Linked DNA regions of Homo sapiens: region 2 is linked to region 1. A link means that fine-mapping ties the variant in region 1 to the expression of a gene that starts in the linked region. Tissue or cell type: skeletal muscle. Region 1 holds a variant in brackets; the other region holds the start of a gene. All regions are shown on one strand. Distances are from middle to middle.

Region 1 (8,260 bases):
CTGGTGCTACGCCTCCACCTTCCTTCTGCTGAAGTCCACTTACTTTCCAGGCAGCTTTCTTGAACAGGATCCAAGGCAATGCTTCTCCAGAGCTCTTGCATGTTTGTATCATACTTAGATTAGAGAAAATATGTTCATTTGACCCATTGTTGCAAGTGCTGCTATATCCCAAATCGCAACCTCTTCTCTACCCCACAGGATGCCTGCATTAACCCTTAACCCTTTACACATCCCAGACAACTCAGACTTCAGCCCACTGTGCCTCTCAAAGACGAAGAAACACATATTCTACTATGTGATCCCAGTAAAATTCGTTTTATTAGTGTGAGGTGAGGGGCATGTACCCCTTAGGATGAGGTTGGAGGCAATGACTCAGTGACTCAGTTCAGCAATAGCTTTTTCTAAAACCTTGAGTCTTTTTTTTTTTCAATCTCTTCAACATCTTTTGCAGGCTGCGGATGGGTAGTGAATGAAGATTGAAAACTGGTTTTCTTTTCTTTTTTTTTTTTTTTTTTGAGATGGAGTCTTGCTCTGTCGCCAGGTTGGAGTGCAGTGACACTATCTTGGCTCACTGCAATCTCTGCCTCCTGGGTTCAAGTGATTCTCCTACCTCAGCCTCCCAAGTACCTGGAATTACAAGCACGTACCACCACATCCAGCTCATTTTTGTATTTTTAGTAGAGATGGAGTTTTACCATGTTGGCCAGGATGGTCTCGATCTCCTGACCTCGTGATCCACCTGCCTCGGCCTCCCAAAGTGCTGGGATTACAGGCGTCAGCCAGCGCGCCCGGCATGAAAATTGGTTTTCTATAATCTTCTTTTGCAAATCCTGTATTGGTGGACTTGCCCGTAACTTTGAAGTGTGACCTTATTGTTTTGGTGTCTCGGCCAAACTTGAGACGAGTGAGGTTCCTTTAAATATCCTATGTATGACATAACTCTGGAAGTACACATAAGGAACAGGAAATATTGGTTACCTTTGGTGGGGAATTTATTGGCTCAGGGCAGCAATGAGAGTGAGAATTTTTCACATATATACTTTTTTGAACCATTTTAATTTAAAACCATATGGTATATAATATCAATTCAAAAATTTAAATTAAAGAAATGTACCTCCTAAATATATTATAGTCATACAATGGAACACTTGGCAAATCTTAAAAAGAATGAGCTATATATCCCGATGTACAAAAATCTCAAAGAAACTGGTGTGGTAGTGTGTACCTATAGTCCCAGCTACTTGGGAGGCTGAGACTGGAGGATTGCTTGAACCCAGGAGTTTGAGTCCAGCCTGGGCAAGATAGCAAGACCCCCACCTCCACCCCACAATTACCTCTAAGGAAAAAAATAATAAAAAGAAAAATCTCAAATATCTTAAACTTGATTCTCATTTCTTAACCACAGAAAAGGCCTTTTTTTTTTTTTTGAGACAGAGTTTTGCTCTTATCACCCAGGCTGGAGTGCAATGGTGTAATCTCGGCTCACTGCAACCACTGCCTCCCAGGTTCAAGCGATTCTCCTACCTCAGCCACCTGAGTAGCTGGGATTACAAGCGCCTGCCACCATGCCTGGCTAATTTTTATATTTTTTGTAGAGACGGGGTTTCACCATGTTGGCCAGGCTGATCTCGAACTCCTGACCTCAAATGATCTGCCCGCCTCGGCTTCCCAAAGTGCTGGGATTACAGGCGTGAGCCACCGCGCCCGGCCAGAAAAGGCTTGTATTTCTCGTACATGGGCATGTATAGTGCAAGATGGACAACTTTTCAGGGCAGCTGTTTCTGCATCTGGTGACTCAGGGATCCAGGCTGTTTCCATTTTGTGGCTTCACCATCTAAATGCGTGGCTTTCACAATTGCTGCAGCAGGGGAAGAGAGAGCTGGAGAGACATAAAATGGCACTAAATGCTTTGGCCCAAGAGTGCCCAATATCATTTCTGTTCATAGCCCTTGAGCCAGAACTAGTCTCATGGTCTCAGCCTCACCGCAAAGCAGGACAGGAAATGTTGTCATCCTTTATGCCCAGAAAAAAGGAAATGAAATGAGGTTCAGTATCATATGGCATCGTGTCTACCACAAAGACACAAACAAGTAACAGGAGGAAGGGTCCTGAGGATCTAATATCAGGAGATTTACTTTTCACTATACTATTCACTCTATTTCTCTTTTTTTATACAACAAAAAGTGAGTATGTATACATACTTGTTCACTGTATTGTTTTGAATTTTTTAACCATTGGCTTGTGTATACTTTTTCAATGAAAGACTTTGTAATTTTTGCAATGGATGCTAAGATTAGTGGGTAAAAGTTTTATGAGGAACAGGATATAGTCTCAAAATATCTCCCCACAAGATACTTATTGGCCAGGCATGGTGGTTCATGCCTATAATCCCAGAGTTTTGGGAGGCTGAGGCCAAGTTGGGAGGATTACTTGAGGCCAGGAGTTGGAGATCAGCCAGGGTAACATAGCAAGACCTGTCTCTACAAAAATAAAATATTAGCCAGGCCTGGTGGCGTGCCTGTAGTCCTTGTTACTCAGGAGGATGAGGTGGGAGGATCACTGGAGCCCGGAAATTTGAGGCTGCAGTGAGTTATGATTGCGCCACTGCACTTCAGCCTGGGCAACAGAGTGAGACCCTGTCTCTAAAAAAAGAAAAAAAAAAGATACTTATTAACTAAAAATCGACAAAGAATAACTTTAAAGTGGAAAACTGGCAGACACCACCTTGACCTAAAAATAAAAATTAACATCACCAGTAGTCAGTAATGTGCCTCCTGATTTAATAAACCAAGAACACAGCATCAGTTTTAGAATATTCCTGCCAAAAATGTATAGCCTGAATCTAATCATGAGGGGAAAAAACAGATAAACCTAAAACAAGAACCTCATACAAAATATCTGGCCTGTATTCTTCAAGTGACAAAGGATCGTGGGAGGCAAAGTCAGACTGAGGAATTATTCCAGATTAAAAGAAACTAAAGAGATTTCTCAACTAAGTGCAGTGTGTGATCCTGGATTGGATCCTGAGCCAGAAAAATAATTTTTCTTTCTTGTTTTTGAGACAGAGTCTCGCTCTGTCGCCCAGGCTGGAGTGTAGTGATGCTATCTCGGCTCACTGCAACCTCCGCCTCCTGGGTTCAAGTGATTCTCCTGCCTCAGCCTCCTGAGTAGCTGGGACTACAGGTGCGCACCACCACGCCTGGCTAAGTTTTGTATTTTTAGTAGAGCCAGGGTTTCACCATGTTGGCCAGGCTGGTCTCGAACTCTTGACCTCAGATGATCTGTCCACCTCGGCTTCCCAAAGTGCTGAGATTACAGGCATGAGTCACCATGCCTGACCTTAGAAAAATAATTTTTCTTTTTGCTGTGGAAAACATTATTAAGACAGTGGAGGATATCTGAATAAGGTCTCTGGGTTAGGTAATATTATTATATCAATGTTATTATTTTTATTTTATAATTGTGCTACTGTTATACAAGAGAATACAATATTCTTGTTTTAGGAAACACATACTTAAGTATTTAGAGATACAATTTCATCCTGTTTGCAATTTATTCTCCAATGGTTCTGGAAAAATAATTTCATATATCATACATATATTTGTGTGTGTATATATGTCTGTATGCATATATATTACCTGTGTGTGTGTGTGTGTATATATATATATGTATATATATATATAGA[G/T]AGAGAGAGAGAGAGAGAGAGAGAAATGATAAAGCAAATGTGGTAAAATGTTAACATTTTGAGAATCTTAATAAACGTCATATGGGGCCGGGCGCGGTGGCTCATGCCTGTAATCCCAGCACTTTGGGAGGCCGAGGCATGCAGATCACAAGGTCAGAAGTTCAAGACCAGCCTGGCCAACATGATGAAACCCTGTCTCTACTAAAAATACAAAAATTAGTCAGGTGTGGTGGCACACACCTGTAATCCCAGCTACTTGGGAGGCTGAGGCAGGAGAATTGCTTGAACCTGGGAGACTGAGGTTGCAGTGAGCCATGACTGCACCACTGCACGCCAGCCTGGGCGACAAAGCAAGACTCCGTCTTGGGAAAAAAAAAGAAAAAAAGAAAATGATAAAGCAAATGTGGTAAAATATTAACATTTTGAGAATCTGAATAAAGGGTATATGGGGCCGGGTGCTGTGGCTCACGCCTGTAATCCCAGCAGTTTGGGAGGCCAAGGCGGGCGGATCGCTTTAGGCCAGGAGTTCGATACCAGCCTGGCCAACGTGGTGAAAGCCCGTCTCTACAAAAAACAAAAAACAAAAAAACAAAAAATACAGGCCGGGCCCTGTGGCTCACACCTGTAATCCCAACACTTTGGGAGGCCGAGGCGGGCGGATCACGAGGTCAGGAGTTCGAGACCAGCCTGGCCAGTATGGTGAAACGCTGTCTCTACTAAAAATACAAAAATTAGCAGGGTGTGGTGGCACACGCCTGTAATCCCAGCTACTCAGGAGGCTGAGGGAGAAGAATTGCTTGAAGTCGGGAGGTGGAGATTGCAGTGAGCTGAGATTGCACCACTGCACTCTAGCCTGGGCAACAGAGTGAGACTCTGTCTCAAACAAAACAAAACAAAACAACAACAACAAAAACACACAAAAATTATCTGGGCATGGTGGCAGGTACCTGTAATCCCAGCTACTCAGGGGGCTCAGGCAGGAGAATTGCTTGAACCTGGGAGACAGAGGATGCAATGAGGCGAGATCGCACCACTGCACTCCAGCCTGGGTTACAGAGTAAGACTCTGTCTCAAAAAAAAAAAAAAAAAAAAAAAGTACATGGGATGTCTTTGACCTTTCCTGAAATCATTTTGTAAGTCTGAAATTATTTCAAATAAAAAGTTGTAATAAGTCTAGGTGCAGTGGCTCACTTGTAATCCCAGTACTTTGGGAGGCCAAGGTGGGAGGATGGCTTGAGCCCGGGAGTTTGAGACCAGCCTGGGCAACATAGTAAGACTCTGTCTCTACAAAAATTTAAAAAATAGCCACCCATGGTGGCACATGTCTGTAGTCCCAGCTACTTGAGAGGCTGAGGCAGGAAGACCACTTGAGCCCAGGAGGATCACTCTTGCCACTATATTCCAGCCTGGGCAACAGAGCAAGATTCTTGTCTCCAGAAAAAAAAAAAAAAAAAAAGTTGTCATAAATGACTAGTAATTAACTACACTTATTAAATTTCTGAACTTTTGCATGAGATATAGTGCTTGTTAGTAAATTCTATTTGTAATAGAATTAAGGTCCAGAGTAATTATTTTTCACATGATATCTCACAGAATTATTGTGAGGAACAAACGTAAATATGTATGAATACGGTCTATAAACCATTATTTGAATGCATTGTTTTCACTATTATTGTTACTATTATTATTATTATCATCATCATTCTTTTTAGTTAAAGTGGGTAATTCTTACTGGGGAGTAATGGGTGCTGGTGTCAGAAAGTAACAAGAACAATATATGGAACAAGATATTGAATGCCAGGCCAGGGCACTTGAATTTTGCCTTCTGGAATACTGAAAAGTCATTGCTTACCAAAATGGCTGGGGAGAAAGTTGAATCCTTTTTCCTTCTTTTTTTTTTTTCTTTTTTAACACAGACTGCTCATCTGCAAGAAAGTTTAAGTTTTTTTGTTTGTTTGTTTTTTGGTTTTTTTTTTAGACAGGCTCTTGGTCTGTCACCCAGGCTGGAATGCAGTGGCTCGATCTCGGCTCCTTGCAACCTCTCAAGCCATCCTCCCACTTCAGCCTCCCAAGTAGCTGGAACTATAGGCACACACCACCACACCTGGCTAAGTTTTGTACTTTTCGTAGAGATGGGGTCTCGCTATGTTGTCCAGGCTGGTCTCGAACTCCTGAGCTCAAGCAATCTGCCCGCCTCAGCCTCCCAAAATGCTGGGATTACAGGTGTGAGCCGCCATGCCCAGTGGTGAATTCTTAACAGTTCTAAAAGGTATCCATAGAGATCAGATAATGGTTCAACCTCCTCATTTTGCAGTTAAGCTGGTGGATTTGGCAGATGAAGCATGTGAATTAGAGTCTTGTGGATGAAGCTGTGCAGATTCAAAGATTGAAAGGGCAGAAAAAGAAACACAAGGAGATAAGAAATGTCACATCACCAGGACCAATTACATAATTAGGAGGGCCCAGTGCAAAATGAAAATGCAGGGCCCAGGCCAGACGCGGTGGCCCACGCCTATAATCCCAGCACTTTGGGAAGCTGAGGCGGGCGGATCACCTGAGGTCGGGAGTTCCAGACCAGCCTGACCAACATGGAGAAACCCCATCTCTACTAAAAAATACCAAATTAGCTGGGTGTGGTGGCGCATGCCTGTAATCCCAGCTACTCGGGAGTCTGAGGCAGGAGAATCACTTGAACTCAGGAGGCAGAGGTTGCGGTGAGCCAAGATCGTGCCATTGCACTCTAGCCTGGGCGACAGAGCAAAACTCCATCTCAAAAAAAAAAAATTAAAAAAAAAAAGAAAAAAGAAAATGCAGGGCTCCTTGTTCGTAAGTTATTAAGAATTTCAGAATTTCAGAGATATACCTAATGTAAATGACTAATGGGTGCAGCACACCAACATGGCACATATATACATATGTAACAAACCTGCACATTGTGCACATGTACCCTAGAACTTAAAGTATAATACAAAAAAAAAAAATATATATATATATAAAAGAATTTCAAAACCATGAAAGCAGAACATTAAACCAAGCGTGGGGCCCTACTAAGTGTGGGCCTGGTGTGACAGCACAGGTTGCACACCCGTGAAGCTGGTCCTAAACATCATAACACACCAAATACATCCACATTCAGTAATTCATCCAAGGTCAGTTAAGGTCCTACTAGTGAGGTGCTTTCAGTTAAAAGGGACAGAAACCATGATTCAAACTGACTTCAATCATAAGGAAATATAGACCAGCAGAAGGTTGGTTTTTAAAAATTATTATTATTATTTCAGACAGCCACCTGCCTTGGCCTCCCAAAGTGCTGAGATCACAGGTGTGAACCACCATGCCATGCTGAGCTTCAGATTACACTTTTATTTATTTATTTATTTATTTATTTATATTTATCTTTTTTTGAGATGGAGTCTCGCTCATTTGCCCAGGCTGGAGTACAGTGGTACGATCTCGGCTCACTGCAACCTCCGCCTCCTGGGTTCAAGCGATTCACATGCCTCAGCCTCCTTAGTAGCTGGGATTACAAGCACGCACCACCACTCCCAGCTAATTTTTGTAGTTTTAGTGGAGACAAGGTTTCACCATGTTGGCTAGGCTGGTCTCAAACTCCTGACCTTAAGTGATCCGCCCACCTCAGCCTCCCAAAGTGCTGGGATTACAGGCATGAGCCACTGCTCCTGGCCTTTAAAGTATTATTATTATTTTTGAAATGGAGTGTTGCTCTGTCACCCAGGCTGAAGTGCAGTGGTCCGATCTCTGCTCACTGCAACCTCCATCTCCTGGGTTCAAGTGATTCTACTGCCTCAGCCTCCCAAGTAGTTGGGAAATATGCACCACCATACCCGACTAATTTTTGTGTTTTTAAAAATTATTATTTTATTATTTCGGGACAGGGTCTTGCTCTGTTGCCCAGGCTGTAGTGTGGTGGCACGAACATGGCTCACTGCAGTCTCCACCTCCTGGGCTCAAGTGATCCTCCTGCCCTGGCCTCCCACAGTGCTAGGATTACAATGTGAGCCACCATGCCCAGCCAGAAGGTTGTTCTTTAGGCAGAGTATGATCACTGGCACTCCATGTCACCAAAGGCCCAGCTTCTATCAGACAAGTCTCAGTGCTGTCCTCAGTGTATGGGATTTATCATCCAGCCTAACAACATCCAACATGAGTAATGATCTAACTCTTCCTGTTCTCTTTGGCAGGAACAAGGATGACTTTCCCAGGAGCCTCTTGCATCTCATTAGCTAGAATTGAGTCCTATGTCCATGGCAGGAGGAATGTGGAACCACAATTGGATTAGGCCATCAGGATGCCCTTCCTGTGGCTGAGGTGGGGGCATCTTGCCCTGAAGCACAGGGCTATGTGGGGGAGAGTGGACACCTATGCAAAGTCAGGGCTCTGGTGGGAAAGGGGAGAAGAAGCGTGGGCCACAGTGTCCGACACACTGTTATTTCCACACTGCCGGTGCAAAGGCAGGGTGGTTAGCAATGCCATGCTGTGTGACAGCTGCTTGGTTAGTGGAAGGATGAAGTGCAGGGCAGGGAGCAGTGGGACGGGGCTGGAGGGCTTGGCAGG
Region 2 (8,000 bases), 220 kb before region 1:
TCTACCTCTTTCTACACAGACACGGCAACCATCCGATTTCTCAATCTTTTCCCCGCTTTTCCCCTCTTTCTATTCCACAAAACCGCCATTGTCATCATGGCCCGTTCTCAATGAGCTGTTGGGTACACCTCCCAGATGGGGTGGTGGCCGGGCAGAGGGGCTCCTCACTTCCCAGTAGGGGCGGCCGGGCAGAGGCGCCCCTCACCTCCCGGACGAGGCGGCTGGCCGGGCGGGGGGCTGACCCCCCCACCTCCCTCCCGGACAGGGCGGCTGGCCGGGCGGGGGGCTGACCCCCCCACCTCCCTCCCGGACGGGGCGGCTGGCCTGGCGGGGGCTGACCCCCACCTCCCTCCCGGACGGGGTGGCTGCCGGGCGGAGACGCTCCTCACTTCCCAGACGGGGTGGCTGCCGGGCGGAGGGGCTCCTCACTTCTCAGACGGGGCGGTTGCCAGGCGGAGGGTCTCCTTGATTCTCAGACGGGGCGGCCGGGCAGAGACGCTCCTCACCTCCCAGACGGGGTCGCGGCTGGGTAGAGGCGCTCCTCACATCCCAGACGGGGCAGCAGGGCAAAGGCGCTCCCCACATCTCAGACGATGGGCTGCCGGGCAGAGACGCTCCTCACTTCCTAGATGGGATGGCGGTGGGGCAGAGACGCTCCTCACTTTCCAGACTGGGCAGCCAGGCAGAGGGGCTCCTCACGTCCCAGACGATGGGCGGCCAGGCAGAGACGCTCCTCACTTCCCAGACGGGGTGGCGGCCGGGCAGAGGCTGCAATCTCGGCACTTTGGGAGGCCAAGGCAGGCGGGTGGGAGGTGGAGGTTGTAGCGAGCCGAGATCACGCCACTGCGCTCCAGCCTGGGCACCATTGAGCACTGAGTGAACCAGAATCCGTCTGCAATCCCGGCACCTCGGGAGGCCGAGGCTGGCGGATCACTCCCTGTTAGGAGCTGGAGACCAGCCCGGCCAACACAGCGAAACCCCGTCTCCACCAAAAAAATACGAAAACCAGTCAGGCGTGGCGGCGCGCGCCTGCAATCGCAGGCACTCGGCAGGCTGAGGCAGGAGAATCAGGCAGGGAGGTTGCAGTGAGCCGAGATGGCAGCAGTACAGTCCAGCTTTGGCTCGGCATCAGAGGGAGACCGTGGAAAGAGGGGACAGGGAGAGGGAGGGAGAGGGAGAGGGAGAGGGAGAGGGAGAGCTGCTAAAGATTCTTATTCCTGCCTTCAGAGTGGTGGGAGCTACCAAAGAAATTTAAGCAAGGTGGTGATGGAATGAGATTTTGCATTTTTGACAGGACCACTCTGGGTGCCACAGGATGGAGAAGTAATTGGACGGAGCAAAAGGCAAATGGGAACCTAGGTGGAGGCTAAGTGCTCCAGGGAGCAATGATGGGCCCTGGATGAGTTGTGGCAGTGGAGCTGGACAGATGCCAAAGCAGATGCCAAGCAGAGAAATGTGCCTCCTATTCTTAGCACAGTAGCCCGAGTGACCTTGCTTCTCTTACACCCCAGCCATGTCTCTATCTCGCACAGAGGAAGTCTCATGTCTCTCAATGGGGTGCTCCCTGCACATGCGGCAGGGCGCTGTGCCTCATGGGCATCCCATCCCCCTGGACTACATGCCAGGAGAACTCCCCAGTCACATGACCTCTGCACATCCCTGGTACTGCTCGGTCCTTCAAGAACCACTGTGGTGGGGGGTGGCGGGAGGCTTTGATTTTGCTTATTCCCTCTGCCAGTTGCAGTCTTTTATTTGAGATGGAGTCTCGCTCTGTCACCCAGGCTGGAGTGCAGTGGCGTGATCTCAGCTCACTGCAACATCTGCCTCCCAGGTTCAAGCAATTCTCCTGCCTGACTCCACTCCCCCCAAACCCCCCTCACCGCCCCAGTATCTGGGATTACAGGTGAGCAACACCATGCCCGGCTAATTTTTGTATTTTTGATAGAGATGGGGTTTTGCCATATTGGCCAGGCTGGTCTTGAACTCCTGACCTCAGGCGATCCTCCCGACTCGGCCTTCCAAAGTCCTGGGATTACAGGCGTGAGCCACCGCACCTGCCCAGGTACACTTTTTATCCAGATATCTATGCACATTGATTCTTGACTCCACACTCCTGCCTCTCTCCGCAAGGCCTTCCCTGACCCCCTTGTTTTGAATTGCAATCTGCCCTCACATAATCCGTACGCCTTTTCTGTTTAATTTTTTTCAACCGCACTTTTTACCCTCTCACATTCTCTAGATTTGGGGCATATTACTTGTCTCCTTCCATCAGAATGTAAACTCCACGAGATTAGGAGTGCTGTCAGCTGTGTTCCCTTCTCTGTCAATCGCCAGCGCCTCCGAACAGCTCCTGGCACATAGTAGTTGCTTGGTAAATATTTGTGCAATGCACGAGGCCGCATATGACCGGAATGGGAGGTGAGGGGATTATTTTCTGGCCTGGACCAGCGACGGATGGTGGTGCCACCGGGTTGGGGAGCACGTCGGGGATGGCGCGTAACGATGTTAGCTGGGGCCAGGTTGAGCTAGGCACGCAAATACAACTTTTTTTTTCCTGGAAACCCTGTAACAGGAAGGTTCCGGAGGGCGGGACAGCGTCGGAGGCAGGCAGCTAGGCCATGCCAAATGGCACTGGGGCTTCGTGTCGTGCCACAGGCGTGGACCGAAAATGCGGACACATGCAGGCTGCCTCTCCTCGCAGGCAGAAGCCACACGCAGACCTAGACCCTTTGCACCGCATCCCCTTATTCAATCGCGCACCCGCCACCCTTCGACAGTTCCTCTCCCTCCACCCCAACCCCACGCCGCGCGCGAGGCTGGCCCTTTAAGAGCCCCGCCCCGACTCCCTCCCCCCTCGCGTGACTGCGAGCCCCCGCGCCGGGCCGGGGAATGGGTCGGCTGGGTGGCTGCGCGGGCCTCCGGTCCTTCTCACGCAACGCCTGGGCACCGCGCCTCCGGGCCAGGTGGGGCGGGGACGGGCCGCCTGACCTCTGCCCCCTAGAGGGATGTCGCCGGCGCACGCAAGCTAGCCGGGGGTAGGGTGGGGGCTCCGCGCCAGGTGCCCCCTCCGTGGTCCCTGGGCCCGAGTCTTTCCGTGGCCCCCCGCCGCCGGATTTCTGTGCTCTGCCAATCAAAGCACTAGCCACCCCGGGAGCCAAGAGGGACCCTCAAGGGCCGGTGGGTCCTGGCTGGAGGGACCGCGCGTTGCAATCAGCACTAAGGCGATCCTAGAGGCTGCGAGGAGCCGCTAGTGAGCGCTCAGCGAGCCTGCCCCTTCGCCATCCATTCCGATCCTTCAATCAAGAGGCGCGAACCTCAGCTAGTCGCCCGGGCTCTGGGGGACAGGTCCAGCCCCGCGGCGCCTCTGGCCTTCCGGCCCCCGTGACCTCAGGGCTGGGGTCGCAGCGCTTCTCACGCGAGCCGGGACTCAGTAACCCCGGGAAGGAGGTCACCACGGGGCAGCCCCGCCCCCGCCTGCCGAGTCCTGGTAGGCTGTAGCGCTGGGGAGGCATCTGCACGCCCAGCGTTCCAGTGGGTGCAAAAATGACGAAGAGGAGTCCCCGCGCCCCAGGATGGAGCTTCCCGTACCCTCTCTTCGGGCTGTCCTGGGACTTCTCCCTCAAGCCCCCTCCTCGGCTGGGTTCTGCACTGCCCTTGGGACGCCTTGGAATTGGGACTTCCAGGTGTTCCCAGCCCTCACCCCTCTATGTACAGGCACCGAGATGTGTCCCATAGTGGGTTCTTGCCCACCCGACCCCCCACCCCCGCCGCCCTCCGCCACCTTTCTCTCCAATCCCAGAGAGACCAGCCCGGTTCAGGCTGCTTCTCCCTCCATCTCAGCTCGCTCCAGGGAAGGAGGCGTGGCCACACGTACAAGCCCGCCTATAAAGGTGGCAGTGCCTTCACCCTCACCCTGAAGGTGACAGTTCCTTGGAACCTTCCCTGATCCTTGTGATCCCAGGCTCCAAGAGTCCACCCTTCCCAGCTCAGCTCAGTACCTCAGGTGAGTTGCTGGGGGACTTCTGGCTTGCCCTTTCTCTCCCAATAAAAGGAACATTTTGGTGCCTCCAGGACTTCTTAGGTAGCTACCTGTCTAGCACCTCCAAAAAGGGAGGCTCAGAGTGTTTTTAGTGACCAGGCAGTCTAGCCCCCTAGTGGGGAAACTGAGGCCAGGGGAAGAGGAGGACTTGCCCATGGTCCCACAGCTGGTACCAGACCTCTAGATACAGATGGCATCTCATTCAGGACTTCAGGACCCAGGCTCCAGCTCCATCCCCTAGTGAGTGTCTCCCTGCCTACCCTGGGGCTTCCCCATCAAGGCCACCTGGCAGGCTGGAATATGTGCAGCCCCTCCCTCAGGCTTTCTGATGACAGGGGCTTCTCCTTGGGTGGACAGGGTGGATGGAGGGGGTGGGCTGGGTTCTTACCAGCTGTACCCTGCCCTAGCCTAAGAAGCTACCCCTGGCAGATTTTACCCTCCTAAGGGTGGCTTGTCAGTGCTGAGATGTCCTAGACAGCTGGGACAATAGAGGCAGATCTGTGCAGGAGTCCCAGGCCTTTCCTATCTCATTGACCATCTTCTTTGTCCTTTGCTGGGAGACAATCAGGGTGACAGATTGCCAACTGCAGGGAGCTGGAAATACCAGTCCCTAAAAACTCACCAGTCACATCTCCCTTGGCCTCCTACCATCTTACAAAGGCTGCAGGTCCTTGGGATACCCACTGTGCAGAAGGGGACACCATAGCACACCAAAGCCTGGCACTGTCCCCTGTTGACTCAGGGATCTAGTGTGCTTTGATATTTAGCCCCTCCAGGAAGCCTCCCTCCACTATAATACTTGTGGTAGGAACCATCCATCTCCCTGTCTTGTGAGGTTCTCCTGTGGGGAGCCTAACTGGTAAGACTGTCAGGTTCCCCACAGCAGATCTGGGTTTTCTCTTCCCTCTGGATCCAGCTGGGTACTCTGAACTGAGAGATCTTGTCTTACCCTCTCTCAGATGTTGAAATTGGACCCCAGAAAAGTAAAATGTGCAGTCCAAGATCACTTTGACTAGAATGTTGGGTCTACTGACCTCTAGTCCAGGGTAACAGGCAGAGATGCCTGATATGTTGGAGAGAGTGGTTTATGAATTTAAACACCCTTTTTAGGTCAAGCTTACAGAGAAAGTATTGCCTCAGTTTCCTTTCAGTTTAGATCCATTCCTGATTTCCCTGATTCCAGTCTGGGGTTTTCTTACAGCCTAGTGGGAACCTTCCATTTATTCTCTGCTCTCTGGTAACCTGCAAAAGGGGGAGGTCCAAACTGTTCATTCATTGAGAATTGAGCCAAAAAAAAACCCTGGCCTGGATTTCTCTGACTAAAGAGCTCAATCTAGCTGGTCTCCAGCTGCCTTTAAACTGTGGATCAGTTGAACTCAGAGAGCTGGGGCTGAAAGCAATGTGGTTTGGGAAGTGGCCATCCTGTCCCCTATCTCTTCCTCAGTCTGTCCTGGGGTCTGGTGGGATTTCCTGCATCCTGGGATTGAGCAGCAGAGAACTGAGGGTTCTGGGAAAATTCCTTCATTGATCTGACCACTCTTCAAAAGGAGGTACATGTGACAGCAGCTGGAAATTTCCAGGGAAGTGTCCCTAAGGAGTCTGAGTCCTGGCTCTGTCACTGATTGCTGGGGGACTTTGGACAAGTCAGCGCTGCTTCCCCCAAATGTTAAATGAGGCTAAAGGATCAGATGATCCCTAATTCCCCTGAGAACATGATTTTCCTAAGTGTGGTGGGTAGGACTCGGGGTGATACACCTTGATTATGTGTTTATTTTAATGTGTTAGGGGAAAAATCAAACTTGTACTTTCACATAGATATTGTTTATGATGATATGTAGGTAGATTTAAAGTTGATTTTAGGAAAATGTGAAGTAAATAACAGTACTGGTACTATGTGGAAATCACAGATTGACATTGGAAGATGTCAGTTTAGATTGGTACAGCAGTTAAGAGAAAGCGTTCTGGAATTAGGCAACTTGGCTTGGGAGTCTGCATCCAACACTTTCTGGCTGTGTGACCTTGGGCAAGTTACTTACCTTCTCTGAGCCTCATTGCAGGCTACTTCATAGATTTGTGGCCAGGGCTGAATGAAGAAGGACTGTGAAATTCTTAGCCCACAGTGGTAGTTCAACAACTTCTCCCCACCTCACCCTCTTCTTCATGCCCAGTAAGCAGTTCTGGTGGAAAGGTTTCCCCTTTCCCTGACACTCTAGATATTGGCTTTTCTCATCCCCCAATCTGACGGCTTGACTTTTTTTCTTCCTGCACCTTCTCTCAGCAGCCACCTCCAAGATCCCTACACTGATCATGCTTTTCCCAATCTCCATGTCGGCCACGGAGTTTCTTCTGGCCTCTGTCATCTTCTGTCTGGTATTCTGGGTAATCAGGGCCTCAAGACCTCAGGTCCCCAAAGGCCTGAAGAATCCACCAGGGCCATGGGGCTGGCCTCTGATTGGGCACATGCTGACCCTGGGAAAGAACCCGCACCTGGCACTGTCAAGGATGAGCCAGCAGTATGGGGACGTGCTGCAGATCCGAATTGGCTCCACACCCGTGGTGGTGCTGAGCGGCCTGGACACCATCCGGCAGGCCCTGGTGCGGCAGGGCGATGATTTCAAGGGCCGGCCCGACCTCTACACCTTCACCCTCATCAGTAATGGTCAGAGCATGTCCTTCAGCCCAGACTCTGGACCAGTGTGGGCTGCCCGCCGGCGCCTGGCCCAGAATGGCCTGAAAAGTTTCTCCATTGCCTCTGACCCAGCCTCCTCAACCTCCTGCTACCTGGAAGAGCATGTGAGCAAGGAGGCTGAGGTCCTGATAAGCACGTTGCAGGAGCTGATGGCAGGGCCTGGGCACTTTAACCCCTACAGGTATGTGGTGGTATCAGTGACCAATGTCATCTGTGCCATTTGCTTTGGCCGGCGCTATGACCACAACCACCAAGAACTGCTTAGCCTAGTCAACCTGAATAATAATTTCGGGGAGGTGGTTGGCTCTGGAAACCCAGCTGACTTCATCCCTATTCTTCGCTACCTACCCAACCCTTCCCTGAATGCCTTCAAGGACCTGAATGAGAAGTTCTACAGCTTCATGCAGAAGATGGTCAAGGAGCACTACAAAACCTTTGAGAAGGTACAGTCTGGGGAAAGGCAGGTGGGTGGTGGGAAGCAGATGGCATCAGGGCCTGGGAGGTCAAAGGTAAGAGGAACTGCATGGGGCTTGGCAAGTTCTCAGGAAGGCTTCAACCTGGGATCTTGAAGCCAGTTGTGGAATAGTCTTCTTCCTTGGCAGGGAAATAGAACTTTATCTTGACTAACCCTTCCATGCTTCCACAGACAGCAATAGCCACTGAAGAGTCATTACATGCAGGACCCTGGGGCAGTTGCTGAGGGAGCCAGGAAGAGTTAAAGAGTTCATCTCCTGGCCTCATAATAGAAAGAAGATAAAGAGCACATCCAGATGATAACAGTACAAGACGCTGTGTGTCAAATGTCCCATGAGTTGGGGCTAGCAGCATTCTAAGGTAGTAGGAGAGAGCCTTGCAGAGGCAGAGAGAAGCTGGGACAACAGCCTCAGGGGGCATCACCTCCAGAACAAATGTGCTAGGAATAGTGAAGGACCAGACCTGGATGGAGAGGTAGCTCTGGGTTTGAGATCTTGCTCACCTGTGGACTTTCCCTACCTAAGGGCCACATCCGGGACATCACAGACAGCCTGATTGAGCACTGTCAGGAGAAGCAGCTGGATGAGAACGCCAATGTCCAGCTGTCAGATGAGAAGATCATTAACATCGTCTTGGACCTCTTTGGAGCTGGTATGGTTACCCCATTGTGTCCTTCCTGTGCTCAAGTGCCCTGACCTGCTGCTGCCTGCCTAACTTCTTCTGTTCTACCCTGTCCAGGGTTTGACACAGTCACAACTGCTATCTCCTGGAGCCTCATGTATTTGGTGATGAACCCCA

Direction of the effects. Positions count from the first base shown, and alleles are read on the strand shown. Sizes are in standard deviations (SD) of each study's normalised expression.
With allele G in place of T in region 1, the expression in skeletal muscle of the gene that starts at base 3,916 in region 2 is higher (moderate effect, 0.58 SD a copy in FUSION).

The links. PIP is the estimated chance that this variant, and not a neighbour inherited with it, causes the effect.
Region 2: CYP1A1 starts here. The variant in region 1 is fine-mapped to the expression of CYP1A1 in skeletal muscle (FUSION, PIP 0.95).

What each region holds. Positions count from the first base shown.
Region 1 is chr15:74,506,011-74,514,270 of GRCh38, reverse strand. No RefSeq gene overlaps it. Among named protein-coding and RNA genes, the nearest start is that of ARID3B, 31 kb to the left of the region's middle. RefSeq lists enhancers at 1,693-1,752, 2,063-2,112. The variant G/T (reference allele first, on the strand shown) is at 3,686.
Region 2 is chr15:74,721,444-74,729,443 of GRCh38, reverse strand. CYP1A1 (cytochrome P450 family 1 subfamily A member 1) reads left to right here and starts at 3,916. Exons shown (of 7, transcript NM_001319217.2): 1 at 3,916-4,003; 2 at 6,318-7,171; 3 at 7,727-7,853; 4 at 7,941-8,000. The coding sequence starts at 6,347. RefSeq lists enhancers at 1-286, 2,850-2,873, 2,922-2,936, 3,011-3,033, 2,172-3,371 and 1 more, silencers at 2,920-3,079, 3,079-3,188, 3,260-3,339, 3,184-3,359, 3,079-3,359, a cis regulatory region at 2,079-3,453 and a promoter at 2,304-4,208.